4 linked regions of the Homo sapiens genome follow. The protein of the gene in region 2 purifies or fractionates together with the protein of the main gene of each other region. This does not show direct contact. Each region holds a gene or a part of one and is shown on either strand. Other genes may lie near its edges. The genes, in order: CHAMP1, CBX1, CHD4 and POGZ.

Region 1 (7,485 bases), on a different chromosome or scaffold from region 2:
CGCCTCAGCCTCCTAAGTAGCTGGGACCATAGGTACCTGCCACCACATCTGGCTAATTTTTTTTTTCTGTAGCGATGAGGTCTCACTATGTTGTCCAGGCTGGTCCTGAACTCCTGGCCTCCAGAGATCTTGTTGCCTTGGCCTCTCAAAGTGCTGGGATTACAGGTGTGAGCTACCATGCCTGGCCTTTAAGAAATTAATAAACTGGGCGGGCGCAGTGGCTCACACCTGTAATCCCAACACTTTGGGAGGCCAAGGCAGGCGGATCATTTGAGGACAGGAGTTCGTGACCAGCCTGGCCAACAGCCAACATGGTGAAACCCTGTCTCTACTAAAAATACAAAAATTAGCTGGGCGTGGTGGTGCATACCTATAATCCCAGCTACCTGGGAGGCTGAGGCAGGAGAATCGCTTGAACCCGGGAGACGGAGGTTGCAGTGACCCAAGACTGAGCCACTGCACTCCAGCTGGGCAACAGAGTAAGACTCCATACTCACCCCCAACCCAAAAAAGAAAGAAATTAATAAACTAATTTTCCAAGTAGTTTTATGTTTGAAGAAAAACTGAAGGGAATGTACAAGAATTCCCACCTATCTTCTTGTCCCCAGTTTTTCCTACTACAGGCTGAGCATCCCTAATCTGAAAATCTGAAATCTGATTATGCTCCAACATCCAAAACTTTTTGAGTGCCAAAAGGAGCATTTTAGATTTCAGATTACGGATGTTTAACCAGTAAGTACAATGCAACTATTCCAAAATCCAAAAAAAAAAAAAAAAATCCAAAGCACTTCTGGTTCCAAGCATTTCGAATGAAGGATACTTCACCTGTATTAACATCTTGCATTAGTGTGAGATATCTGCTACAATGATAAGCTAATACTGATTTATTAAGTAGTCTATAGTTTACACAAGGAGTCATTTTTATTTATTTATTTTTTTTTGAGAGGGAGTCTCGCTCTGTCACCCAGGCTGGAGTGTAATGGCGCAATCTCGGCTCACTGCAATCTCCACCTCCCAGGTTCAAGCGATTCTCCTGCCTCAGCCTCCCCAGTAGCTGGGACTACAGGCGCGCGCCACCACAGGCTCACGCCTGTAATCCCAGCACTTTGGGAGGCCAAGGTGGGCGGATCACCTAAGGTTGAAAGTCAGAGAGCAGCCTAACCAACGTGGAGAAACCTCGTCTCTACTAAAAATACAAAATTAGCCGGGTGTGGTGGCAGGCGCCTGTAATCCCAGCTACTTGGGAGGCTGAGGCAGGAGAATCGCTTAAATCCGAGAGACGGAGGCTGCAGTGGGCCAAGATCGCATAACTGCACTCCAGCCCAGGCAACAAAAGTGAAACTCTGGCTCATTAAAAAACAAAAACAAAAATAAAAACAAAAAACTTGCCATTTAGGCCGGACATGGTGGTTCATGCCTGTAATTTCAGCACTTTGGAAGGCCGAGGCGGGTGGATCACCTGAGGTCAGGAGTTCGAAACCAGCCTGACCAACATGGAGAAACCCTATCTCTACTAAAAATACAAAATTAGCCAGGTGTGGTGGCAAGCGCCTGTAATGCCAGCTACTTGGGAGAATGAGGCAAAAGAATCCCTTGAACCCAGGGGGCGGAGGTTGCAGTGAGCCAAGGTCGGGCCATTGCACTCCAGCCTGGGCAACGAGAGCGAAACTCCCGTCTCAAAAAAAAAAAAAAAAACAAAACTTGCCATTTAATCATTTTTAAAAGCACAATTTAGTTAGTTTAGTACTAAAACGTTGTGCAAACATCACCACTATCCACTTCCAGAACTTCTTCACCACAAACAGAAATTCTGTACCCATGAAACAGTAACTTCCACTCTCCACTTTCAGTGCTGGTAATCTCAATTCTGTGCCTGAGGGGGAATCATACAGTATGTCTTTTTTGTGTCTTATTTCACTCAACATAATGTGTTCAATGTGCTCGTTTATACTGTATAATGTGTTCGTTTATATTGCAGCATGTATCAGAATTTCATTCCTTTCTAAAGATGAACAATGGTCCATTCATTATATGTATATACCACAGCTTGCCTTTCATCCACATGTTGATAGACATCTGGATTTTGAATAATGCTGCGATGAACATTTGTGAACAAGTATCTGAGTCTCTGCTGTCAATTTTTGGGGGTATAAACCTAGAACTGAGGAACGACTACCAATTTCCATAGCTGCTGCACCACCCTACTTTCCCACCAGCAATGCACCCGAGCTTCAATTTCTCCACATCCCCAACACTCATAATTTCCCTTTTTTTTAATAGCCACCCTAACAGGTGTGAGGTGGTATCTCATTGTGGTTTTCATCTGCATTTCCTTAATGGTTAGTGATGTTGAGCATCACTGCACGTGCTTATTGGCCATTTGTCTCTCTTCTCTGGAGAAATATCTATTCAAATTCCTTGCCCATTCTTGAACTGGGTTGCTTTTTGTTGGTCAGTTGCATCTCTTCTTGTATTCTAGACATTAACTCTTTATCAGGTTTACAAATGTCCTCTCCCACTTTGGAGGCTGTATAGCGGATTTTTAAACAGTAATAATGACAGAAGAGGAGGCAGTCTAGAACTAAAACAGAAAGAATGGCTTTCGTCTTGTGCCGCCCTCAACTTCCCAATGGTTTCAAACGCAATGTTTCCAGCCTCGGCAGCGACTGACACCGGGCCTCCCCGCTCCCTGCACAAAGACGCACTCCCGCCCCGGCCTGTGGGGGCGGGCCCTTCCCTCGGGCCGTGTGGGAAGCGAGGCAGCGCAGGCCCCCTTCACTCGGACCCGCGGCTTCCCGGGACCGTCCCCGCCAGGTCGGCGGCCGACACGGGGCTCGGGGATGCAGGCCCCAACCACGCCCCTCCCCCGCTCGCTCTCGCTCCTCACCGGTCCGGCCGCGGGCGGCGTCCAGTGGGCGATGGACCGCGCGGAGGGCCCGGCTCGCGGTCGCGGGCGGCTCCGCGAGGCCCTGCAGCGCAGCGGCCTCCCGAATGGCGACTGGATGCAGGAGCCGGGATCCGGGTGCGCGAGCGTGCGCGCTCCCGCGGGACGGGCGGGGGCTGACGGGAAGCAAGTTTGGCGCCGCGCGCCCTCCCGCGCGGGCCAATCAGATCGCCGATCGCGTGGCGCGGCTGTGCCAAAAGTGCGTGGGCAAAACTAGCGGCTCGCGCGGGCCTTCGGAAGGGCTGCGTGCCCGCCCCGCCCCGGAAGTGCCGCACGTGCCCACTCCGCCTCCGCTTCCCGCGCGCGCCCGGGCGCGGCTCCGGGAGGGTTCCGCCGCGTCTGGCCTGTGGCCTCCGGCCAGGCCCTTGGAACGGCCCCGGCCTGCCGCCGCCGTGCGGATATCTCTTCCTTTTCTTGCTGTTTTGATTGTTGTGTGAATGAATTTATTAGGAAAAAAAGAGCTAGACCTGCCCCATACATTCTCAGGGATATTACTGGCATAATACCTATGACAAAAGTACAAGACAAAGTTGTTGGATGACAGTAAATATTCCTTTTCTCATCACCCCGCCTCCACTGAAAGTCCCGATTCCCAGAAGTTATCTTCTTCGTTTTTTGTTTTCAGTTTTATGAATGTTACCACCACAATTCTAATTAAAATGCATGCACCTCTAATGCTGATGCCATCAGTCTGTATGCTTTGAAAGACTGTAAAATTAGCTCACACTGCTCTCTACCTTTGTACCCTTCTGAAGTTTTGCTTGTTGTGAATTTCATTTTTGTTTTTGTGGTGAAAATGAACTATAGAATGGCCGGGCGCGGTGGCTCACGCTTGTAATCCCAGCACTTTGAGAGGCCTAGGCAGGTGAATCATCTGAGGTCAGGAGTTCGAGACCAGCCTGTCCAACCTGGTGAAACCTTGTCTCTGCTAAAAATACAATATTAGCCAGGCGTGGTGGCGGGCGCGTGTAACCCCAGCTACTAGGGAGGCTGAGGCAGGAGAATCCCATAGAACCGGGGAGGCGGAGGTTACAGCGAGATCGCGCCACTGCACTCCAGCCTGGGGGAGAGAGTGAGACTCTGTCTCAAAAAAATAAAAATAAAATCCATAGAATTTACCGTCTTAACTATCTTTACGTGTACAGCTCAGTGGTGGTAAGTATATTCATAACACCACCATCCATCTCTGTACCTCTTTCATCTTGAAAAACAAACTATGCATTACATGTTAACTCTCGGTTCCCCTCTACCTTCTACTTTCTGGCAGTCACCATCTTACTTCCTGTGTCTCTGAGTCTGACTACTCATAAGAGTGGAATCATACAGTATTTGTCTTGTGACTGACTTATTTTACTTAGCAGAACATCCTCAAGGTTCATCCATGTTGTAGCACATTGTGGAATTTCCTTCCTTTTTAACACTGAATACTATCCCATTGTATGGATATGCCACATTTTGCTTATCCACTCACCTGTTGATGGACACTTGGCTTGCTTCCCTATTCAAGATATTGTGAATAATGCTTTGACATTTTCAAAGAACCAATTTTTGGTTTCATTGATTTTCTCTATCGTTTTCTATTTTCTATTTCATTTATCTTGGCTTTAATCTTTATTATTTCCTTCTTTTTGCCAGCTTTGGATTTAGTTTTTCTTTTTATAGTTCATTAAGTTGTAAAGTTAGGTTGTTAATTTGAGATTTTCTTGGTTTTTGATGTATTTATAGCTATAAACTCCCCCTTTAGCATTGCTTTTGCTGTATCACAAAAGTTGCTATATTGTGTTTACATTTTTTTCTTTTCTTTTCTTTTCTTTTTTTTTTTTTTTTTTTTTTGAGACAGAGTCTCGCTCTGTCGCCCAGGCTAGAGTGCAGTGGCGCCATCTCGGCTTACTGCAAGCTCCGCCTCCCGGGTTCATGCCATTCTCCTGCCTCAGTCTCCCGAGTAGCTGGGACTACAGGCTCCCGCCACCACGCCCGGCTAATTTTTTTGTATTTTTTTAGTAGAGACGGGGTTTCACCGTGTTAGCCAGGATGGTCTCGATCTCCTGACCTCGTGATCCGCCCGTCTCAGCCTCCCAAAGTGCTGGGATTACAGGCGTGAGCCACAGCGCCTGGCTCTACCTCCCTTTCATGCAAAATTTAGGATCCTGTGTTAATTTCCGGAATGATTCTGATTTCTAGGATTCAAATATCAATATTAAATATTTTAGGATTTTTCTAAGTTTTGTTTTTGCAGCAAAATTGATTCATTAAATTTAATAGATTTCTTTAAAAAGTATCCACCTAGTTACAAGCTTTTAAAAGAGCCAATGAAAACAGTTTGTAAACTGTAAATGTTAAATGCAGAAATGAGAGGATCTTTTATTTTCTCTGAATAGCAAAGATTTACTGATTGAGAACTTTTTGAGATCCTGACTCTTAATATGAAACAGGTTCGTTGTGGCTGCAGGACCTAATTTGAATGGCTGCTTCAGTTGTTTTTTCCTGAAGTGTCAGAATGAGTTGATGATCCCAAGAGACCTATTCCAATTGAACACTGAACAAAACTCTAGCAGAAGGCAACTCTTGGTGACGAAATAACAAAAACCAAAACACCCTCTGCTATTATTCTGAATTGAAATCATGTTAAAAAAGCTATTGTAGTTATAGAATATTAAATAGTTCAAGATGAATAATGCAAATAAACTCCCAATTTGGCCTTTTGAAAGGTTCCCAGTATATTGCACTAAACTTTAAAGTAACCAAAGAAAGCAGAAATAACTCTCATAAAATCCTGTACTAAAACCAGACCCTTATGGACTTTCAAAATTTCACTTAAGGATCTATTGAACATATACTTCTCAACAGTTTATTTTGATGTTTTCTCAACCTATACTATGTTCCAGGGACCAGACTTGAATCAGGGAATGGGTAGAGGCAGGTGAACTACAATTGCAGTAGAAAGTGGCAGCCTGACAGCCTTTGAGGAGCTGCAAACTCATTAGCTGAGATGGCACTGGACTTTGTCATTTGTCTTCTGTGTATAAAGAATAACAGTGCTGAGTATCTGCACATATTCAAAACCTACACAGAATCATGTTGTCAAATGAAGCAGCCAAAATCAGACTGGCTTTCTGTCAGAAAGTCAGACTTAATTTTTCCATTCAAATTGCTGCATTAATATGTATTACAAGGAACATAATAAAAATTAGAAATAAATTATTAAGTGCTTCCTGTAAGAGAAATAATAAAAGCAGTCCAGCTTATAATTTAGATCTAATATAATCAACTTAGCTACTTTATAATAAAAAAGGACAAATTATTCTGCTATTTCTACTTAATTTATAATAATGCAAAATAATGGGAACTAAAATAAGTTACTTAATGGGAAGTATGATAAAATGGAATTCCTCCTGAGTATCTAGCTCTGTTGCTGGGCTTTGGGGAATGTCAAAGTATAGTTCTCAAAAGTTAAACACATGACTCACACGAATATAAAGTGAACACATATCAGAGGATTTATTTTATTTTGTATTTTTTTTTGAGACGGAGTCTTGCTCTGTCGGCAGGCTGGAGTGCAGTGGTGCGATCTCTACTCACTGCAACCTCCACCTCCCGGGTTCAAGTGATTCTCCTGCCTCAGCCTCATGAGTAGCTGGGACTACAGGCACTTGCCACCACGCCCAGCTAATTTTTGTATTTTTGGTAGAGATAGGGTTTCACCATGTTGGCCAGGACGGTCTCAATCTCAGAGGATTTATTTAACTCATTCATGAGGGAATCCAGAGGAGGATGAAGCTAGTTCAGAAGGTTCATAAAGCTGAGTACGTGCAGCCACTAGAAAAAGTGGAGTCAAATGGCCAGTTAGAAACAAAAGTGGTTAGGATCCTACAGGGAAGCACAACTGCCACCTTTGAGGCCATGTTATAGAAATCACTCACATCTCTACTGGGCAAAAATCCGTAAGGAAACATGTGATGTCACAGTGTGGGCACAAATGTGGGTCAACTGTTAAATAATCGGAGCTTGTCAGACATGACACAGCCATGCAATCACTCTTTTTTGCCTTATTTCCGAGTTTTAGACATTTTTTTAAATAGGACTGAAAAATAAAAATCAAATATAAAAATTAGAATCAAGTCCATTAATATTTTCTTAATTTTTTTTTTTAACCATTCACTAGCCCCAGTTTTGGAGGGAGGAGAGGATGCCCAGGCCCCAGAAGCCTTTGCTGGTGGGCATGGGGCTCTTCCTTTCCTCTCAGGCAGAGCAGCAGACTTTGCTGAAGGGCAGTCTAGGTCCACACAGCTGCCAGGGGTGGCAGATGGGCACTGACTGCTGCATTGCAGGCACTCAATCAATGCTAGTTGAGCGCCAGTGAGCGAGTGAAAGGCAACTGGGAGCCTGGTGCTGGCCGGCAGAGCAGCTAAGTTCTCATATGGCCAGTTTACCGTGTAAGTGCAAAGCCAGCCTCAATCAATCCTGCTACACTCTTCATGAAAAGAGCAGCAGAGGGCACTTTGTTTCAAGCAGGCTGCCCAAGAACTATGGTCACCTGCTCT
Region 2 (7,000 bases):
TGTTCATTAGTGCCTGGCACATAGTAGGCCGTTCAGATTGTTGATGAATGAATGATGAATAGGGGAGCTTTGAGATCCATTCTGAGAACTCAGCCAAATTAATGTGCATAGTAGTTTGCTTGTCCTGTGTCTGTGACATTTGGCAGAGTTAAGCTGTTGCTTTGCCATGTTTGTCTTAGCCTCAGTTAGTTTCTTTTTGTTTGTTTGTTTGTTTGTTTTTTGTTTTTTTAAGACAGAGTGTCGCTCTGTTGCCAGGCTGGAGTGCAGTGGTGGCATCATGGCTCACTGAAGCCTCAACCTCCTGGACACAAGCAGTCCTCCCACCACAGCCTCTTGAGTAGCTAGGACTACAGTCTCATGCCACCATGCATGGCTTCTTTTTTGTGGGGACAGTCTCTGTTGCCCAGAATGGTTAGCTTCAGTTTTGTACTCACTCTGGTACTAAATATAGAAAAGGTATACAGGCTGTGCAACTGGCCGTTTTAAATACCTCAGGCCTCAGATTCTGGGTTTTGTCAGCAAGCAAATAGCTTGAATATATCTGTTTTAAAAGAATCTTGAAAAATCTTCTGTGTCCTTTGTATTGACCTGAGCAATAATTTACCAGTAGCAATGTCTGTTGAAAAATTGAATAGCCTTTCCAAGGTTATTTGGAGAAGTTACTCAGATATGGACAAAATTTAGATCTTGTCAATATTTGCATAGAATAACTTGTATTAAATCTTTCCTGCCTTTAGCATTTATACTTTGATGACCAGAAGGGGGCAACCTAATTTGTCTGTGAAATTGTGCCTTTTAAAATAATAGTTGACACTTTGAGTGCGTAACAGAACTATGGTATTAATTTTTTTTTTTTTTTTTTGAGACAGAGTCTCGCTCTGTCGCCAAAGCTGGAGTGCAGTGGCGCGATCTCAGCTCACTGCAACCTCCGCCTCCCAGGTTCAAGCGATCCTCCTGCTTCAGCCTCCGGAGTAGCTGGGACTACCAGGGGGCCCCGACAACGCCCGGCTAATTTTTGTATTTTTAGTAGAGATGGGGGTCTTGCCATGTTGGCCAGGCTGGTGTTGAACTCCTGACCTCGGGTGATCTACCCTCCTCGGCCACCCAAAGTGTTGGGATTACAGGTGTGAGCCACTGCGCCCAGCCTATAGTATTAATTTTTAACTGACAAGAATGGTGTATCCTTATGGGGTACAATGTGGTGGCGTTTTTTTTTCTTTTTTTGAGACGGAGTTTCGCTCTTGTTGCCCAGGCTGGAGTGCAGTGGCGCAATCTCAGCTTACTGCAACCTCCGCCTCCTCGGTTCAAGTGATTCTCCTGCCTCAGGCCTCCTAAGTAGCTGGAATTACAGGCGCCTGCCACCACGCCTGGCTAATTTTTTGTATTTTTTTAGTAGAGATGGGGTTTCATCATGTTGGCCAGGTTGGTCTTCAACTCCTGACCTCAGGTGATCCACCCTCCTTGGCCTCCAAAGTGCAGAGATTACAGGCGTGAGCCACCACGCCCAACTTGTGGTGGGGGTTTTTGAACTTTTATTTTTCTCACATAAATAGAGGCAGGGACTCACTATGTTGCCCAGGCTAGTTTCGAACTCCTGGCCTCAAGTAATCTTCCCACCTCACCCTCCCAAAGTACTGGGATTACAGACATGAGCCACTGCACCTGGCCCACTGTGGTGGTTTTTGTTTTTCTTTTCTTTTTTTAGACAAGTCTTGCTCTGTCACCCAGGCTGGAGTGCAGTGGTGCACTCCACTCAGCTCACTGCAGCTTCCACCTCCCGGGTTCAAGTGATTCTCCTGCCTCAGCCTCCTGAGGAGCTAGGAATACAGGTGCACACCACCATGCCCAGCTAACTTTTTTTGTATTTTTAGTAGAGATGAGGTCTCACCATGTTGGCCAGGCTGGTCTTGAAATCCTGACCTCAAGTGATCCACCCACCTCAGCCTCTCAAAGTGCTGGGATTGCAGGTGTGAGCCACCATGCCTGGCCACTGTGGTGTTCTGATACGTTTCCAATGTAGTCATAATTCTGGTCTAGCTTTCTAACCACTTTTATTTTATCTTAAATTCACCTTTGAAAGATAGCTTGAGGTATCTCTGTGTCCATACTAACATTTGTAGACTCTTGTGGCCTCTCAACCCAAAAATCTGTGTCAAAATATCCATGTCAACATACTCAAGGGGTTTTCCAAGTTTCAGAACACATCTCAGATAAAATTCAAAATGTATTCGCACACCAGCATTCTAGCCTTTGATCCTCTGGAATTCAAGGGCTGGTGTTCCTTTAAAAATGAAACTCCTGACTGGGCGTGATGGCTCACGCCTATAATACCAGCACTATGGGAGGCCTAGATGGGTGGATCACCTCAGGTGGGAACTGAAGACCAGCCTGACCAACATGGAGAAACTCCGTCTCTACTAAAAATACACAATTAGCTGGGCGTGGTGGTGCATGCCTGTAATCCCAGTGACTCGGGAGGCTGAGGCAGGAGAACTGCTTGAACCTGGGAGGCGGAGGTTGCAGGGAGCCGAGATTGCACCACTGTACTCTAGCCTGGGTGAAAGAGCAAGACTCCATCTCCAAAAAAAAAAGAAACTCCTGCTAACTGTGTGTGGCATAAGTTCTTGTTTTCTGCTTAGTCAAGTTTTCCATCTGGAAAGCATTTGCTTCGCAAACAGCCACAGCTTACAGACTACAAGCAGTTTAGAAACAAGACTACCACCTGAATATACTACACATGCCTTCACCTGCCTTTTGATGATTGGTATGTAGTTGCTGATTCTTTCAACAAAAGGTACTTCTTTCTTGTTTTCTCTTTAGGGCTTATGGATCAGATTTATCTTGCTGCTTATTCCCTTAAAAGCTTATAGCTTTGGAATTCTATTCCCTGATGCTTCTGAGACAGTCATCCTCTTTTTTTTGAGATGGAGTTTTGTTCTTGTTGCCCAGGCTGGAGTGCAATGGTGCAATCTCAGCTCACCGCAACCTCAGCCTCCCAGGTAGCTGGGATTACAGGCGTGTACCACCATGCCCAGCTAATTTTGCATTTTTAGTAGAGATGGGGTTTCTCCATGTTGGTCAGGCTGGTCTCGAACTCCCAACCTCAGGAGATCTGCCTGCCTCAGCCTCCCAAAGTGCTGGGATTACAGGCGTGAGCCACCGCGCCCCACCTGAGACATCCATCTTTATTGTCCATATAGGGTTCAACAACTTGTTCAGGTTCCAGACCTACCTTTAATTGTATGTGCAAGTAAAAATAGAAACAGAATGCTTTGGGAACCCCAAAGAAAAGAGAAATATTATTTAGCTAGGTTGGGTAGGCTTCATGGAGAAAGTAGCATTTTTAAGCTGGGTCTTGAAGAATGGATAGGATTTTGACTGTTGGCCCTGTACAGGAGCACACTACTTTCTTTTTTCTTTCTTTTTTTTTTTGAGGCAGAGTCTTGCTCTGTCACTGAGGCTGGAGTGCAGTGTCAAGATCTTGGCTCACTGCAACCTCTGCCTGCCTGGTTCAAGTAATTCTTGTGCCCCACCCTCCCAAGTGGCTGGGATTACAGGCATGCACCACCACACCTGGCTAATTTTTGTATTCTTAGTAGATATGGGGTGTCACCATGTTGGCCAGGCTGGTCTTGAACTCCAGGCGTCAAGTGATCCACCCGCCTCGACTTCCCAAAGTACTGATTTATAGGTGTGAGCCACCAAGCCCAGTCAGGAGCACACTTTTTTTTTTTTTTTTTCCTTTGAGACAGAGTCTTGGTCCGTCACCCAGGCTGGAGTGCAGTGGCGCGATCTCAGCTCACTGCATCCTAACCCCGTTTTCCGGATTCAAGCAATTATCGTGCCTCAGCTTCTTGAGTAGCTGGGACTACAGGTGCGCCATGCTGGCTAATTTTTTTTTTGTATTTTTAGTAGACACGGGGTTTCACCATGTTGCTGGGCTGGTCTCAAACTCCTAGCCTGAAGGATCCACCCACCTCGGCCTCCCAAAGTGCTGAGATTACAGGTGTGGGCCACAGAGCCCAGCCCACACTTTTTTTTTTTGGAGACAGAGTCTTGTCCTGTATCCCAGGCTGGAGTGCAGTGGCACAATCTTGGTTCACTGCAGCCTTCACCTCCCAAGTTCAAGGAATTCTCCTGCTTTAGCCTCCTGACTATCTGGGATTACAGGTATGTGCCACCACACCTGGATGATTTTTGTATTTTTACTAGAGTTGGGGTTTCACCATCTTAGCCAGGCTGATCTTGAACTCCTGACCTCAAGTGATCCACCTGCCTTGGCCTCCCAATGTGCTGGGATTACAAGCATGAGCCACTGCGCCCTACCAAGCCCACACTTCTTTTTTTTTTTTTTTTTTTTTTTTGAGACAGAGTTTCACTCTTGATGCCCAGGCTGGAGTGCAGTGGCACGATCTTGGCGCATCGCAACTTCCGCCTCCCAGGTTGAAGCGATTCTCCTTCCTGAGCCTCTGGAGTAGCTGGGATTACAGGCATGCGCCACCACACCCAGCTCATTTTGTATTTTTAGTAGAGATGGGGTCATGTTGGTCAGGCTGGTCTCGAACTCCTGACCTCAGGTAATTCGCCTGCCTCAGCCTCCCATAGTGCTGGGATTACAGGCGTGAGTCACCATGCCGGGCCTAAGCCCACACTTCTTAATACTTAATAGATGAGCAAAGCTATGGAGGAAACATAGGATATGTTCAGGTTGTGGCCAGGTTATAGTCTTTGACAGGAATGTAGATTTTGTGAGGGAAGAAGGGACATAATTAGTCTGGAATAAGAACCGAAGAATATAAGTGTTACACTGACGACTTTGGCCTTTTGTTTTAAATGGGAGGAAACCTTGTAGAAAATATTTCCTATTCAGTCAGCTCCAGCCCAAACTGGTTTATATGTGTCACATTGCCTTTGTTTACAACAGTTCCTGAAGCCAAATTGCCCTACCAGTACACCTTTTCAAATGCTAGTAAAGCCTGGTTTCAAACTCAGCTTTTCAAAATGTTTACTGATGCCCTCGCCAGTTCTTCCTCCAACCTCCTATAGTGCGTTTATGGCTACTTTTTATTGCTTATACTGCTTTTGGTAATTATGTATGCTTGCCATTTCGGACTCTCACTTGAACTTGCATTGTTTACCTTTTTGTAAATTTTTTTCGAGACCTGTCTTCTGTGTCTTTTTTTTTTTTTTTTAATTTTATTTTTGAGACAGAGTCTCGCTCTATTGCCCAGGCTGGAATGCAGTGTCGTGATCTGGCCTCACTGCAACCTCTGCCTCCTGGGTTCAAGCAGTTCTCCCTGCTTTAGCCTCCCAAGTAGTTGGGTAGCTGGGATTACAGGCGCCTGCCATCATGCCCAACTAATTTGTTTCTTTCTTTTCTTTTCTTTTCTTTTTTTTTTTTTTTTTTTGAGACAGAGTTTTGCTCTTGCTGCCCAGGCTGGAGTGCAATGGTGTGATCTCGGCTCACTGCAACCTCTGCCTCCTGGGTTCAAGCGATTCTCCTGCCTCAGCCTCCCGAGTAGCTGGGATTACAGGCATGCGCCACCACGTCCGGCTCATTTTGTATTTTTAGTAGAGACTGGGTTTCTCCATGTTGGTCAGGCTAGTCTTAAACTCCTGACCTCAGGTGATCTGCCGACCTCGGCCTCCCAAAGTGCTGGGATTACAGGCCTGAGCCACCATGCCCGGCCTAATTAATTAATTAATCTTTTAGAGATAGAGTCTCGCAGCTGGGTGCGGTGGCTCACGCCTGCAATCTCAGCACTTTGGGAGTCTGAGGTAAGTGGATCACGAGGTCAGGAGTTCGAGACCAGCCTAGCAAAGATGGTGAAACCTTGTCTCTACTAAAAATAGAAAAATTAGCCAGGTGCAGCGGCGGGCACCTGTAATCCCAGTTACTCAGGAGGCTGAGGCAGGAGAATCCCTTGAACCCGGGAGGTGGAGGTTGTGAGCCAAGATAGCTGCACTCTAGCCTGGGCAACAGAGCAAGACTCCCTCTCAAAAAAAAAAAGAGAGAGAGAGAGAGATGGAGTCTTGCTGTGTTGCCCAGGCTGGTCTGAAACTCATGGCCTTAACCACTCCACAACCCTTGCCTTGGCCTCCTAAACTGCTGGGATTACAGGTGTGAGCCACAGTGCCTCGCTAATTTTATTTTTTTTTTAATAGATAGTATTAAAAGGTAGAAGATCTGGTCGGGCATGGTGGCTCAGTCCTGTAATCCCAGCACTTTGGGAGGGCGAGGCGGGCAGATTACCCGAGGTCAGGAGTTCGAGACCAGCCTGACCAACATGGAGAAACCCCATCTCTACTAAAAATACAAAAGTAGCTGGGCATGGTGGCGCATGCCTGTAATCCCAGCCACTCGGGAGGTTGAGGCAGGAGAATCACTTGAACCTGGGAGGCGAAGGTTGTGGTGAGTCAAGATGGCACCATTGTATTCCAGCCTGGGTGACAAGAGTGAAACTGCATCTCAAAAAAAAAAAAAAAAAAAAAAAAGATCTGGCTGGGCATGGTGGCTCACGCCTGTAACCTGAGTACTTTGAGTGGTCGAGGTGAGTGGATCACCTGAGGTCAGGAGTTCGAGACCAGCCTGGCCAACATGGTGAAACCCCCTCTCTACTAAAAATACAAAAATTAGGCCTGGTGTGGTGGCTCACGCCTGTAATGCCAGCACTTTGGGAGGCTGAGGCTGGTGGATCACCTGAGGTCAGGAGTTTGAGACCAGCCTGGCCAACATGGTAAAACCCCGTCTCTACTAAAAATTCAAAAAATTAGCTGGGCATGGTGGCGCGTGCTTGTAATTCCAGCTATTTGGTGGGGCTGAGACAGGAGAAGCACTTGAACCCTGGAGGCAGAAGTTGCGGTGAGCCAAGATCATGCCCCCGCATTCTAGCCTGGGCAAGAGTGAGACTCTGTCTCAAAAAAAAAAAAAAAAAAAAAAAAAGGGCATGGTGGCGGGCACCTGTAATCCCAGCTACTTGGGAGGCTGAGGCAGGAGAAT
Region 3 (7,038 bases), on a different chromosome or scaffold from region 2:
TCCTAACACTTTGGGAAGCTGAAGCAGACAGATTGCTTGAGCCCAGGAGTTTGGGACAGCTATGAGCAGTGATCACGACACTGCACTCAAGCCTGGGCAACACAGCTAAAATTTGTCTCAAAATAAATATATAAGGCTGAGCGTGGTGGCTCACGCCTGTTAATCCTAGCACTTAGGGAGGCCAAGGCAGGCAGATCACCTGAGGTCAGGAGTTCAAGACCAGCCTGGCCAGCAGAATGAAAACCCTGTCTCTACTAAAAATACAAAAAATTAGCTGGGCATGGTGGCTTGCGCCTGTAGTCCCAGCTTCTCAGGAGGCTGAGGCAGGATAATCACTTGAATCTGGGAGGCAGAGGTTGCAGTGAGCCGAGATCACGCCACTGCACTCCAGCCTGGGCACAGAGTGAGACTCTGTCTCAAAAACAAAAAACAAACAAAAAAAACCAGTGTCTTCCAAGTCTAAGTTACTGGTGACAGCCATTTTCCCAATCTCTTTAGCAGGACTCTCCCACGGAGACTGCCCGTCTCCCGTGTGCTCAGCTGGTACCTGTGGTTGAGGATTCGGTGGATCATCATCCACTCGGGTTTTATCCCATAGCGATAGAAGCGTTCCTCCATCTCTGCAAATTTAGGGTCCTTGTTCTTTCGCTTTCGGCTTTTCTCTTCATCACCACCAAAGTCCCCAGAAGGTGGCTCATCCATATCATTCTTCCGCTGATAGTTTCGGAACATCACCTGACAGTGCAGCTCCAGCTTTGAGCGGAAAGAGAAAATCAGCCACCAAGAAGCTGTGTTCATTCCTTCTATCCACAAGGCTCTTTTGTCACTATCCTCTTCATCGTAGCCCCTACATCTCCAGACTATCCTAAACTTACCTGCAGTTCAGAAACCCAGGAGCAGTGCCAGTAAGACATGCCTTGCCATTTCACAAAGAACTGCCGCTCTGGCCGCCCCTCCAAGGGCTTTGGGGAGGGCGTGTTGGGATCAGCATCTGGAGGCCGAGGCACTGGTGTGGGAGATGGTGGCTGACCCCACTTCCAGATTAGGATCTTCTGCACTTTGCCCTTCAGAGCTGGACACTGAGAGAAAAAGAGACAACTTAATCTCAAATCATAACCATGGGAGGAGAAGGGACAGCCCACAGTCTCAACTTCATCAAAGGACGATTCAGATCTCATTTCAGACCTGGAGCAGTGGCTCATGCCTGAAATCCCAGCACCTTGGGAGGCCGAGGCGGGCAGATCACGAGGTCAAGAGATCGAGACCATCCTAGCTAACATGGTGAAACCCCGTCTCTACTAAAAATACAAAAATTAGCTGGGCGTGGTGGCATGCGCCTGTAGTCCCAGCTACTTGGGAGTCTGAGGCAGGAGAATCACTTGAACCTGGGAGGCAGAGCTTGCAGTGAGCCAAGATTGCCCCACTGCACTCCAGCCTGGGGGACAGAGCAAGACTCCATCTCAAAAAAATAAAAAAAGATCTCATTTCAAATAAAATCTAATCCCAGGACTCCTCCAGGGAGAAAATACAGGTTGAGGACCCCTCATGTGAAATGCTTGGGACCAGAAGTATTTTGGATTTCACATTTTTGGATTAGGGTGCTCAACCTGTAATAGAATTCCCTCTCCATTTCTGGACATCGTCCAGGATTTGCGTGCCACCATCACTCCTATCTGCTTAACAGAGCCAGTAGTTAGACTTTAACAATAAGCCAGAACAATCAGGAAATCAACAGACTTAGAGCACAGAATTCCTCCCTTAAGCAATCTAAAGCAGTAAGTGGCCCTATTAAACATTCTAAACTGGCTGGCATGGTGGTAAACACCTGTAATGCCAGCACTTAATGAGGACAAGGGAGCAGAATGGTTTCAGACCAGGAATTCAAGACCAGCCTGGGCAACATAGTGAGACCCTGTCTCAACAGAGATTTTTTTTTTTTAATTAGCTGGATGTGGTGGCATGCACCAGTACTCCTAGCTACTCAGCAAGAGGTTGAGATAGGAGGATCACTTGAGCCCAAGAGTTGGAGGCTGCAATGAGCTATGACTGCACCACTGCACTCTAGCCCGGATGACAGAATGAGACCCTGTCTCCAAAAAAAAAAATTTTTTTAACAAAAAAATTGAAAACATTGTAAGCTACCAAGACCCTGAGGCAGGGTGTCAACACAGGGACAAATGTTCTCAGCTAGAAGAACATTGCTTCATCTCCTCTTAAGAGAGCTGGCAAAACATCAACTCCTCAGTTTGAAGTTAGTCCTATATTTTCCCAGGACAAAAGTATCCCAACACTATAGGATGAAGGAGAATACCTTTCTCAGGGCTGAAAAGCTCATAGTTCCTCTCCTGCACCCCAGCCTCACAATAGCCTACATAGAAAAGACTACACTTTCCCATTTTTTGCCCCGGCTGAGATCAGTCACTCACCGTACAACGGGGACAGAGCCATTCACCGTTGGGGATCTCTGGAAGTGGGGGATTCAGGCAGTGGATGTGGTAGGAAGAAGGACAGGTATCACAGCAGAGCAGTTCCCCACCATCCTTGCAGACCCGACAGAATTCCATATGGTGGTCATCCTCCTCTTCGAGGTCTCCCCCAACCTCTTCCAGGATCTCCTCACCCTCCGAATTGTCCTCTTTAGCTTCCCACTGGATGCCTTCCTTCTCCTGCAGTAAAGGACCACAGATTCAGATTATTACCCCCACCCGCCCACCGCAGTCTGAAGCCAGTGCCCATCATTCCTTTGAATGCTTCCCAAAGCTCACAACCCGCAGCACCAGCATTTCCATTTCCATCCAGGCCCCGAAGAGCTTTACTGTCCCACCCTTCTTCTCATGGGTTCCAAGGGGCCACAATGGCCAGACACTCACGCAGTGTGGGCAGCTCCACTTGCCCTCGGGAGCCTTCTCCATGTCGGGATCCAGGCAGACCATGTGGTAAGCACGGGGACAGGTATCACACAGGATGATCTCACCGCCTTGCTGGCACACCTCGCAATAGTCCTGGTGGTCTGTCTCATAACCATCCACAGCAGTCACCTCCTCCTCGCCTGGGCAAGGAAGAGGGAAAGCCCAGTTATTGGAAAAAAACTACCTCCCCCCACCCCCCGACCCCTATCTCCTTAGGGAGATTCTTCCCCAATCACTCCCACCTCATCCCATCACAAATATACAGAAGAGAAACACACCTTTCTTTTTCTTTTTAGTGGTTCGGAGTTTCTTGCGGCTGCGGCTACTACGGCTGGTGGAACCATCAGAAACAGAATAGCTATTGATACTGGCATCATCGAAGTCAGATTCCACATCTAAGTCATCATCCTCACTCTGGCAGGATGAAAAAGAATAAGGTTAGACGTTCAAGCCAAGGGGAAGGACAGAGTGGCAGAGAGGGGAGTACTCTCTCACTGGGGACACCAGAATCCCAGCAAGCACCGTTATACAGGGAGCCTAGTCTCATCTTGTTCTGTGGGAAACGCCCCACATTCTTACGTGCCTACTATGAAGGACAGGTTCTGATAGAAGGTCACATCCTTTCTATTAGACATGGCACCCTCCCTAAAGCGATGGGCTGGGCTCTCACCGAGGATCTCTTACGCTTGGAACCAAAACCTCCCAGCTTGATTTTCAGGGGAGCTACTTTCTTGGGTTTAGGCTTCTTGGCATCAGGTACACGAGGGCTGCCCTTGGGCTTCCTCCGAGCATTGGGACCTAAAATCAGGATATATCCAAATATATACCACAAGACCAAAGATGGGGAAAATAAAATCTTCTCCACCTAAGCTTGCTTCCCCACATTCAGATTCCCAAATTTCCCTCCAAAATCCAAGACTCATTCCTCCCTCCTATCTCCTACCTTAGGGCTGACAGACCAGCATTCCCATGCTGTCTTTGACATCTTAAGCCCACACTAGACACCCCCACTCCCATTTGAACCCCATTTCACCTTTGCCCTCCTTGGTCTTGGCCTTGCGGATAGGCACCTCCACAGGGGGAGGTGGTGGTGCAACCTCAGTGGCTGTCACCATGCTCTCCACCACAGCTACCGCTGCTGCTGCCGCAGCTGCCACTGATGCCCCAGAACTGCCTTTGAAGGGGTTATTGGTACTGAACTCCCGCCATTTTGCACCCAAAACCATCATCATCTTGGAGACAGCAATCTTGGGATTTTTGGCAGCAATGAGGGGTCTGGTGGAGAAATGCACAAGAGCAGAGGGAAAGGTTTAAGAATAAAAAAAGAAAGAGAAGTAAGAAGAGAGAACAGAAAGATTCTCCTCCCCCTTCCCCAAACCCCTTCTGTTTTACCTGACAAACTGGCTGAAGGCCTTGTAGTTGGTGAGGGTTCGATAATCCTCCTCTGAGAACACGTGGTCAATGTCTTCCATGCCCCAGTCTTCCAGGAGCTGAGCAGATGATTTAGGCTCCTGCAGAAAGAGCAAAGTCAAGTAAGTACCTGCCACCTAGTGCCCACACTTGCTAAGCAAATTTGTGTGGAAAAATCAGAGTAACAGAGTTAAGAGGAAAAGAAGAGAAAGTGTTCTAAAGGGCAGTAAGGTGTCTAGGAAACAAAAAGACAAAAGTTTAACAGTACAAAGAAGAGGATGGAGGTCCAGGCACCTTTGAATCATCATCATCATCCTCCTCCTCCTCCTCCTCCTTCCGCTTGGATTTGCTCTTCTTCTCTTTCTTAGGTCCAAGCTTCTTCTTCTTCTTCTTGCCAGGAGTATAGTCGCTGCCCTCACTGTCTGAGCGCAGAGCCACCTCTTCCTCCTCCTCCACAAACTCTGGCCCCTCCCCAGAGCTGTCCCCCAGCTGCCGGCATAAGAGCATACGCTGGAGCAGGGCAAGGGGGGAAGAGGGAGACAGACACACACATGCTACACACATGCTGACCTCAGGACAGCCCTGAGGCTCATCCCCAGAACATGGCCCACCACTTCTGAGAAAGAAACAAATGCCCTCAGCCCTTCAACCCTTCTCAGAGCTCCTCCCTTCTTCCTCTGATTCCCCGTAACATTCAGTCACCCACTCACCTCCTTTTTTTGGCGCTTGCTCTTAGGGATTTTAGGGTCCCGAGGTTTCTTAGGCTTTTTCTTCTTCTTGAGCTTTGGAGTCTCTGTTTCTGACAAATCCTCTTCTGGGTCCTCTTCATTTTCTACATATATTTGGCAAAGAGTGGTAGGCAGGGAAAAGATCAATAGCAAAAGGTTAGGCCCTAATCCAGAGGCTTTAGACTTTATTCCCCACCTCTTGTCCCAGATTCCTCTGAAGAGAACTGCTATACTCTGTACAGGAGGAAGCTGATACCCAGGACAAAAACAGACAAAGAGAGAGCTGTATATACCCGAAATAGGCCTGCCAGGCCAGACCAGGCCCACCTCGGGCAGCTGTCCAGACCCCTGCCTCCTCTCTCCCGTTCCTACCAGTCCTCTAGATGTTCACCAGTACAGCTGAACTGAGCTGCTCAGAGTTCACCAAGTAAGAGAACTAGATTTAGGCCTCCTGTAACTGGCCACCAAGTTATTCTATAAACCAGGGAATGAGAATGAAAGATCCTACTCAGAAGGCAAAAACTATAGAATATACCTTCCCAGAACAGGATCAGTTCAGGGGTCTCGGAAACCACACCCTTCTCTAACCACTTTGAAGTCATCACTGCTCAAATTAACCAGAACCTCCAAGTCCTAGGTTCAGGTGCCAGCTCAATCTCATGCCCACTTCTAAAATACAATTTCCTTTCCCCATCTCCAACCCTAATGTTCCTCCTCAGCTTCTCCTGGGTCAGCAGCCTCTTCTCCCTAGGGGCCCGAATCAGCCCAGCTGTCACCATCTCCCCTACACCCGCCCCCCAGCAAGCCTCCTCCCATCTGGCTCCACCTCCTCCCCTGGCTGGAGGCACACACAAAGCCTGGGTAAGACTGAAAGCTCCTGGGCAAGGATAGGTGGGAAGGGACACAGAGAAGACCAGGAGGCAGCTTCCTTTGTAACAGACATTCACACTGGCTCCGACTCCCTCCTCCCTCCTCTCTCCCTCTTCCCAAGCCACCCCCGCCCAAAGGGGGGTGGGTAGAGAAAGGAGTGGAGAGAAGAAGGGAGTGCCTCACCCACTGAGGAGAGGGAAAATGGCTCCTGACCGCAGAAGCCAGCCCAGGGCACCCAGCTGCCAACATAGGACAGACAGGAAGTGGCAGGGGAGGGGGTGGGTTTGAGAGAGGTGGGGTGGCGGGGGGGGAGACTGCCCTCATAGAAGCCTCCCCAAATTACCTGGCCCCAGGTCCAAATGCCACCTACTCTGGGATGACAACAGTTCACAAGAGCCCACCCTAACATCCTAAGCAAGGAAACCCAAGGAAAGCGAGACAAACATGAAGGTAATACTAAGAGAAGAACTCGATCACTCCCTCAATCATAATTATTTTTTCAATCATCAGAGCTGAGATTTAACAAAGGCTCAGTGGACTTGTGGTCAGCGCATACAACCTTCTCCCCAAATTTCTGATACCCAAAAGATTTAGTTTGAGGAATGGAGGCCCACAAGAAGTCTCTGAAGCTCAGCTTCCTCACCACTCCCACCCAGATTCCTATCCAACATATGGGAATGTCTGCACAAAAAAACAGAGCAGGACCTAGACAGTGGTAGAAGAGAATATCCCAATCGGGTGCAATGGCTCATGCCTGTAATCGCAGCACTCTGGGAGGCTGAGGCGGGCAGATCATTTGAGGTCAGTTCGAAACCAGCTTGGCCAACATGGTGAAACCCTGTCTCTACTAAAAAAACAAAAATTAGCCAGGCATGGTGGTGGGTGCCTGTAATCCCAGCTACTCAGGAGGCTGAGGCAGGAGAATCGCTTGAGCCCGGGAGGCGGAGGTTGCAGTGAGCCAAGATCGCACACTGCACTCCAACCTTGGCGACAGAGTGAGACCCCATCTCAAAAATAAAAAAGAAAATAATATCCCTCCTTCAATCCCTGACATGTTCTTAGCTCTTAACCCCCAAAATTAGCCCTAAAATGTCTCTGGCTCCCCACTTCCTGAGCTAGAC
Region 4 (5,309 bases), on a different chromosome or scaffold from region 2:
AATGTTGGCTGTGATTTTCATTAAAATACCACTTTAAAAATAATCTAGTAGAACTATTCTGCATCAGGTTGCCCTCAAGTCAGCTGGGGCATCAGCCATCCCTGGAATGGTTCTAAACCTGAATATTTTAGAGACAAAAGTCTCATTCTGTTGCCCAGGCTGGCGTGCAGTGGCATGATCATAGCCTACTACAGCCTTGAATTTCTGAGCTCAAGCAACCTCCTGCCTCAGCCTCCCAAGTGCTGGGATTACTGGCATGAGCCATCATGCCCAGCTTGAATTTTTAAAATGAACACTGTAGGCGATTCTGACACAAATCCTCTCCAAACTTCTTGAGAAAGAAAATATAGGCAGCAAATTCAAAGTACAGAAATTCAGTGAGAACTGAAGGAAAAAATAAAACCATCCCTCCATTTGCATTGTCCGTTAACAACAAACTTGTAAAGCCAAACAATGAGCTTTCAATCTGAAACCTCCACACATTCAGTCTCAACACAGGAAACAGTCAATAAATACATGTTTATTGATTAAACTGAATTATAAAAAACAAAACCAAAAAAAAATTTCCTTCTACTACTAAGCCATGCAGGCAGAGTCCACAAAGACAACTTCCTGGCCAAAACCCAGCTGATCCACTGTTGGTATAATCTTAAAAAAAATTACCCATCAAGAAAGTCAATCGTGTGCAGAAGACAGGAACCCCAGCTCTGCTAAGGCTGTGGCTGCTGCAGAGACTACCAAAGAGTAGGATTAGGTTGTAGATAGACGTGACCAACCATAGTTCTTGAACTTTCTCAAAGGCAAAGGCTGACTTCAAAGTCCATTGTCTGTCAATAAAATGGCATCAGGCAAAAAGCTGGGGAAGAGAAGCCCAGATGGATCCTTGGTTGTTTTCAGATGTCAAAGGTTCACAAAGCTGGCCAAGCTGTTTCTGGAAGGGACTTTTCCAGTTCACTATATTATAGTGTGCTGGGGGATGAAAAAACAAACAAACAAAAAAGCAGGGTGGGGTGGGAGAAATGGGTGGTAACAAATGTCACACCTGTACCACCAGGCCCATCACATCTTGAGCATTCCCCAGTCTGTGAAAGCCTATTAAACAGGGTCACCTAGAAAAAAAACAAGTTTATAAATCCATTTCCCCTCATTTTATTAAATGTTCCACTTATGTACATTTTAAAGACGAACCATTTACAAGCTTGTGCAGTTTGCCTCCTTGGCTCACAGGAGGGGAACATTGTGGAAAGCCTCAGGATAAACAGAAGACTTGGTTTTTTGCTCCTTTTCTCTGTACGGTACAGTACGTTTTGGTTTACAACCATGAGTACATACAATTAAAAAAATCCCTCATGCAAATTGTAGAAAAAATTTTCTTTCCTTGAAGCTGGCAGTGAAAAATAAAGATTCATGTCATTTTCTTTGTGCACACCCCTGTGCGCTTCTTCCTGTCAGATTCTTCCCTAAGTATTAAGAGAAATAGGGGAAAGCCACAGAGCACGCTGGATTTCAACAAGTGGTCTTGTCTTTTTAAAGTTCAACACTTCTTGAACAATTAGCTCCTGGCTGTAGGACCAGTAATCCCTTAAACAGGCATGCTCTCCATCTAACAGGATGAAGTTCAGTAAAGCAGGGACTGCCCCTGGGGGCTTACAGGATGAAGACTCAAACTGGGAATGGCTTCCACCCTAAAACTGTTTGATCGCTTCAGTATCTCTTGCTTGCTAATAACACCTGTATGATCCTTTGTCCAGAGGGATGGATGGTGTTGAGAATGGGGAAAGGGGCCAAGGATCACAAGTGCAAAAAATATTGTTTATGTCATGTTTTGGAGGGAAGGTGGTGAGGAAAAGACAAATCTATTCATTCTGGATAATTAAAGGTGGTTTCATGCATTTTTAAAGCCACAATTTTATATCTAGGGTTGCTGTAGAAACCAACATCTCTGGAGAGGGAAGGAAAGAAAAGGAGAAGGAAGAGAGAGTTCAGTGGGACTTTTTTTCCATTTTCATTTTTATATAAAAGTGTTAAGACCACAATGAAAAAAGTTTTTTATCCATATATATAATAAACCAGTTTGTGAGCTACATAATTTGTCTTTCCCATCTTCAGAAATGTTCTCACATTAACAATGATTAGATAGCATCATGCCCAAAGACATTGGCCACACAATAAAACAAACAAAAAAACCCAGTACTATGATACAATTGAGGTAAAAGGGGAAACAAAAAAATTTAACATTTGCCCACAAATAATTTTTTTTCTTTTTCTTAATTTTGTCAGAAAAATACCAAACACAGTGATTTAAATTTAAAAAAAAAAAAAGTCACAAAAACCTGTTTTTAGCAGAAGTGAATGACCAATGGGCCAGCTCCTTGGCTCAGACGTGATTACTATTGGTTTTCCTAATTAATCCACAAATCCACAGGGAAGTGTAAGTCAACTTCAGGGGGGAGTGGTGGTATAAAATTAAAAAATAGAAACCAAATACCCCACCTGGTATGCCCCCTTTTCCCTAAGCCCCTTTACCCTCCCTCACATGTTCCCACCCTCACTCCACACCCCCTCATGACCCCAACACTCAAATCTCCATCAGATCTAGGTCAGCTTCTTCAAAGCCATAGAAAGACTCGGTCTCACTTTCACCCTCAAAGAGCTGGTGAAGACTTTCAGGCTCAATTGTCTCTTCAGGAGATGATCTGGGTCGTGGAGTGGAAGACTCAGAATGTTCCCCACTCAGCTTCAGTTGCTCCTCTAGGGAGGCAATTAGCTCCTCCTGCATGTCAGCATTTCTTGTAGGTGAGTTAATGTTGCCATCGGGGCCAGGCAGAACACTAGCCACCAGGAAGGAGCGCTGAACTAGCTCTGGACAGTCCCCAATGACACCTAGCACTTCACCCAGCCAGACAAGCACCAGCTGAAGCAGGACATCAGAATCACATGCAGTATCTGCCATTTCCCGAGCCTGTTCCTTCCATTTTTTATGCAGGAAGTTCTTGACAGTTCTTTTGATGCATACATCTAATGGCTGAATTTTGGAGCTACAGCCTGCTGGGACCACTGCAGGCAAAGTGCTAGAGGCACTAAGCATAGCCAGTACCTCTTCTGACAAGTGAGTGCGATGACAGTCCATCACAAGCATGCCTTTGCTGCGCTGGCAAGCTGTGTGCTTCTGCCACACTCGAGTTGACCACAGCTCCATGATCTCGTCATCACTGTAGCCACTCTCCTTTGCCTCTAGCAATATGGAGTCTGGCATGTTAGCAGGCTGATCCATCTGCCCTCTGTAGAAAACCAGGGTGGGAAGGACAGTGCCATCTGCCAGAATGGCTAGGACTACATCACACCAAGGTTCCCCTGTGCCCACTGTCTGCAGGGCATTCTCCTTTCGATCATCACTGCTCAGCACCTCTGTATCCAGGAACAAAGAGATCTCATCAATAGCCACAATCATAGACAAGGGTAAGTCCTGGTTGTGAATCTGCCGTTGTACAAAATCAATGAAGAGTCCTGCATTCTCTGCTACATCCTTAGGTAGGGTGTGGGCCACAGCTCGCCGGGCATGGGGAGTCAGGTGGTGCCGCAGCATGAAACGCACAGCCCACTCATAGGAGATCTTAAACCCCCCTTCCAAAGAACGTCCTATTTTGGTGGCCTTCTGGAACAAGGTCTCCTCATTTACAGGTAGCTGTTGTTCGCGCTGGGTTAGCACCCACTCAGCCAGTTTCTCTTCTGCCTCAAAGCTCAGATATTTGCCCTCTAGATTCTCCCCCTGGGAGGCCTGGAAACGTCGAAGCCAACGGCGAATACGTCGCTGGGGATTTCGGAAGTGTTCAGCTGCCTGTTCTGTATTGCAGCATAGAGCAAACAGTACTACTCGAAGCTTCTTCACAGACAGCTGCTCCTTTTTGCCAACTCCACCACTACCACCACCACCTGATGCTAGCTCAGGTTCTTGGGTGACTGGGCTCCCTTCATCCTGATCATCAACATTCAGACATTCGGCTCCCTCTGTAGCCAGCGGTGGAAGGGCTAAAGCCTGCGGGTGAGTGGGGGTTGGTGGTGGGGTTGCAGTTGAGGCTGGTGATGGGAGTGCTGGGGCTAAGGGAGTTAGTAGCTCTTCAGGCTCAGCTGGGGTGGCCCCCGCAGATTTCACAGTGGCAGCTTTGTTAGTGGGGAAGGAAGGAGGAGGGTACATATTCTTCACGTTCCGGTCATGCACTCGGTCACGAGTCTGGCCATGCCTAAAGGGGTGAGGAGCAAAGAGAAGAGGAGAAATCTCAGTTCAACTAGGAAATTGAAACAATAATATGATAATAATAATAATAATAACAGAGTAAACACACTGCAAACCAGAAATTAAATTGTGAGGTGAGTTTTTGTTACCTTGAGTGAGCTATCCAAGTGAGTCCTATGGAAAATGAAACAACAAAAATAGTTAGCTCAGTGAAAAAATAAGCCCTCCAAAGACAGTGCCCTGGGATTCAACTTACTACATACAAATACGCTGTTCGCAGTGACCAGCTTTCCCAGTTTTATATAAACTTCAGGTCGGAAGGTTTCTAATTAGGTCCAGCACATCTCAACAGTGAATGAGTGAGGCCAAGTAGGTATGCTCCTGATGCATACAGTACGAACCTGTATCTTTTTTCCTCCCCTTGCTCAACTAATCCCCTTCTCTCCTACTTACCCCGTGGCAGGATGCTGCTGGATCTGTGAGAGGGGTTGAATACCAAATGCTTGGCCATAGCATCGCCCACAGAGGTAACAAAGGTACATGAAGTGCAGGCCAGCTTGATTCCACTAAAAAAGAGAATTGAGACTATGTAAGACAAACACAGCAGTGACACTTGAGACCATTAAGCTTTGAGGCTTAAGAAAGAAAAGGAATGCCCTCCCACTTTCTCCTTTTTCTGAAATTAATTCACATAACCACCTCTCCAAATAATGAAAAACCTGAAAATTAATGTAAAAACCTGAAAAATTAAGATGCTGCCAATAAGTTTTTTCTTACCTCACAGAATTTTTAAACAAAGCCAAATACTTGGGGCTCTTCCGTGGAACATGATTGCTGAGAAAGACAAAGAAGTGGTATGAGTTACGGAGTTCTGCTGGCTAAGCTAGAGATCACCAGCCAGTGACAATGCCCCCAACAAAAGAGACACTTCTTCAGTGCACCCTAATCTCAACCTAAGCCAGTTTTCCTGTCACCATGCTTCTTAAACTTTAATATGCATACAAGTCACTGAGGATCTATTAAAATTCACATTCTGGTTCAGTAGGCCTAGGGCGGGGCTGAGAGTCAGCATTTC

The links.
Region 1: the proteins of CBX1 (region 2) and CHAMP1 purify together in Homo sapiens (affinity purification with mass spectrometry; 6 studies listed by BioGRID and IntAct, with this or other methods). This does not show direct contact.
Region 3: the proteins of CBX1 (region 2) and CHD4 purify together in Homo sapiens (affinity purification with mass spectrometry; 7 studies listed by BioGRID and IntAct, with this or other methods). This does not show direct contact.
Region 4: the proteins of CBX1 (region 2) and POGZ purify together in Homo sapiens (affinity purification with mass spectrometry; 7 studies listed by BioGRID and IntAct, with this or other methods). This does not show direct contact.

What each region holds. Positions count from the first base shown.
Region 1 is NC_000013.11:114,310,046-114,317,530, reverse strand, and holds the start of CHAMP1 (chromosome alignment-maintaining phosphoprotein 1), read right to left. Parts: upstream 3,029-7,485; 5' UTR 2,888-3,028; intron 1-2,887. UniProt on the Homo sapiens protein: Required for proper alignment of chromosomes at metaphase and their accurate segregation during mitosis. Involved in the maintenance of spindle microtubules attachment to the kinetochore during sister chromatid biorientation.
Region 2 is NC_000017.11:48,091,479-48,098,478, reverse strand, and holds part of CBX1 (chromobox protein homolog 1), read left to right. Parts: intron 1-7,000. UniProt on the Homo sapiens protein: Component of heterochromatin. Recognizes and binds histone H3 tails methylated at 'Lys-9', leading to epigenetic repression. Interaction with lamin B receptor (LBR) can contribute to the association of the heterochromatin with the inner nuclear membrane.
Region 3 is NC_000012.12:6,597,347-6,604,384, forward strand, and holds part of CHD4 (chromodomain-helicase-DNA-binding protein 4), read right to left. Parts: intron 5,152-7,038; coding exon 5,030-5,151; intron 4,830-5,029; coding exon 4,614-4,829; intron 4,421-4,613; coding exon 4,302-4,420; intron 4,185-4,301; coding exon 3,943-4,184; intron 3,708-3,942; coding exon 3,580-3,707; intron 3,324-3,579; coding exon 3,188-3,323; intron 3,050-3,187; coding exon 2,871-3,049; intron 2,667-2,870; coding exon 2,427-2,666; intron 1,080-2,426; coding exon 876-1,079; intron 754-875; coding exon 548-753; intron 1-547. UniProt on the Homo sapiens protein: ATP-dependent chromatin-remodeling factor that binds and distorts nucleosomal DNA. Acts as a component of the histone deacetylase NuRD complex which participates in the remodeling of chromatin.
Region 4 is NC_000001.11:151,402,224-151,407,532, forward strand, and holds the end of POGZ (pogo transposable element with ZNF domain), read right to left. Parts: intron 5,069-5,309; coding exon 5,012-5,068; intron 4,801-5,011; coding exon 4,688-4,800; intron 4,409-4,687; coding exon 4,384-4,408; intron 4,242-4,383; coding exon 2,579-4,241; 3' UTR 501-2,578; downstream 1-500. UniProt on the Homo sapiens protein: Plays a role in mitotic cell cycle progression and is involved in kinetochore assembly and mitotic sister chromatid cohesion.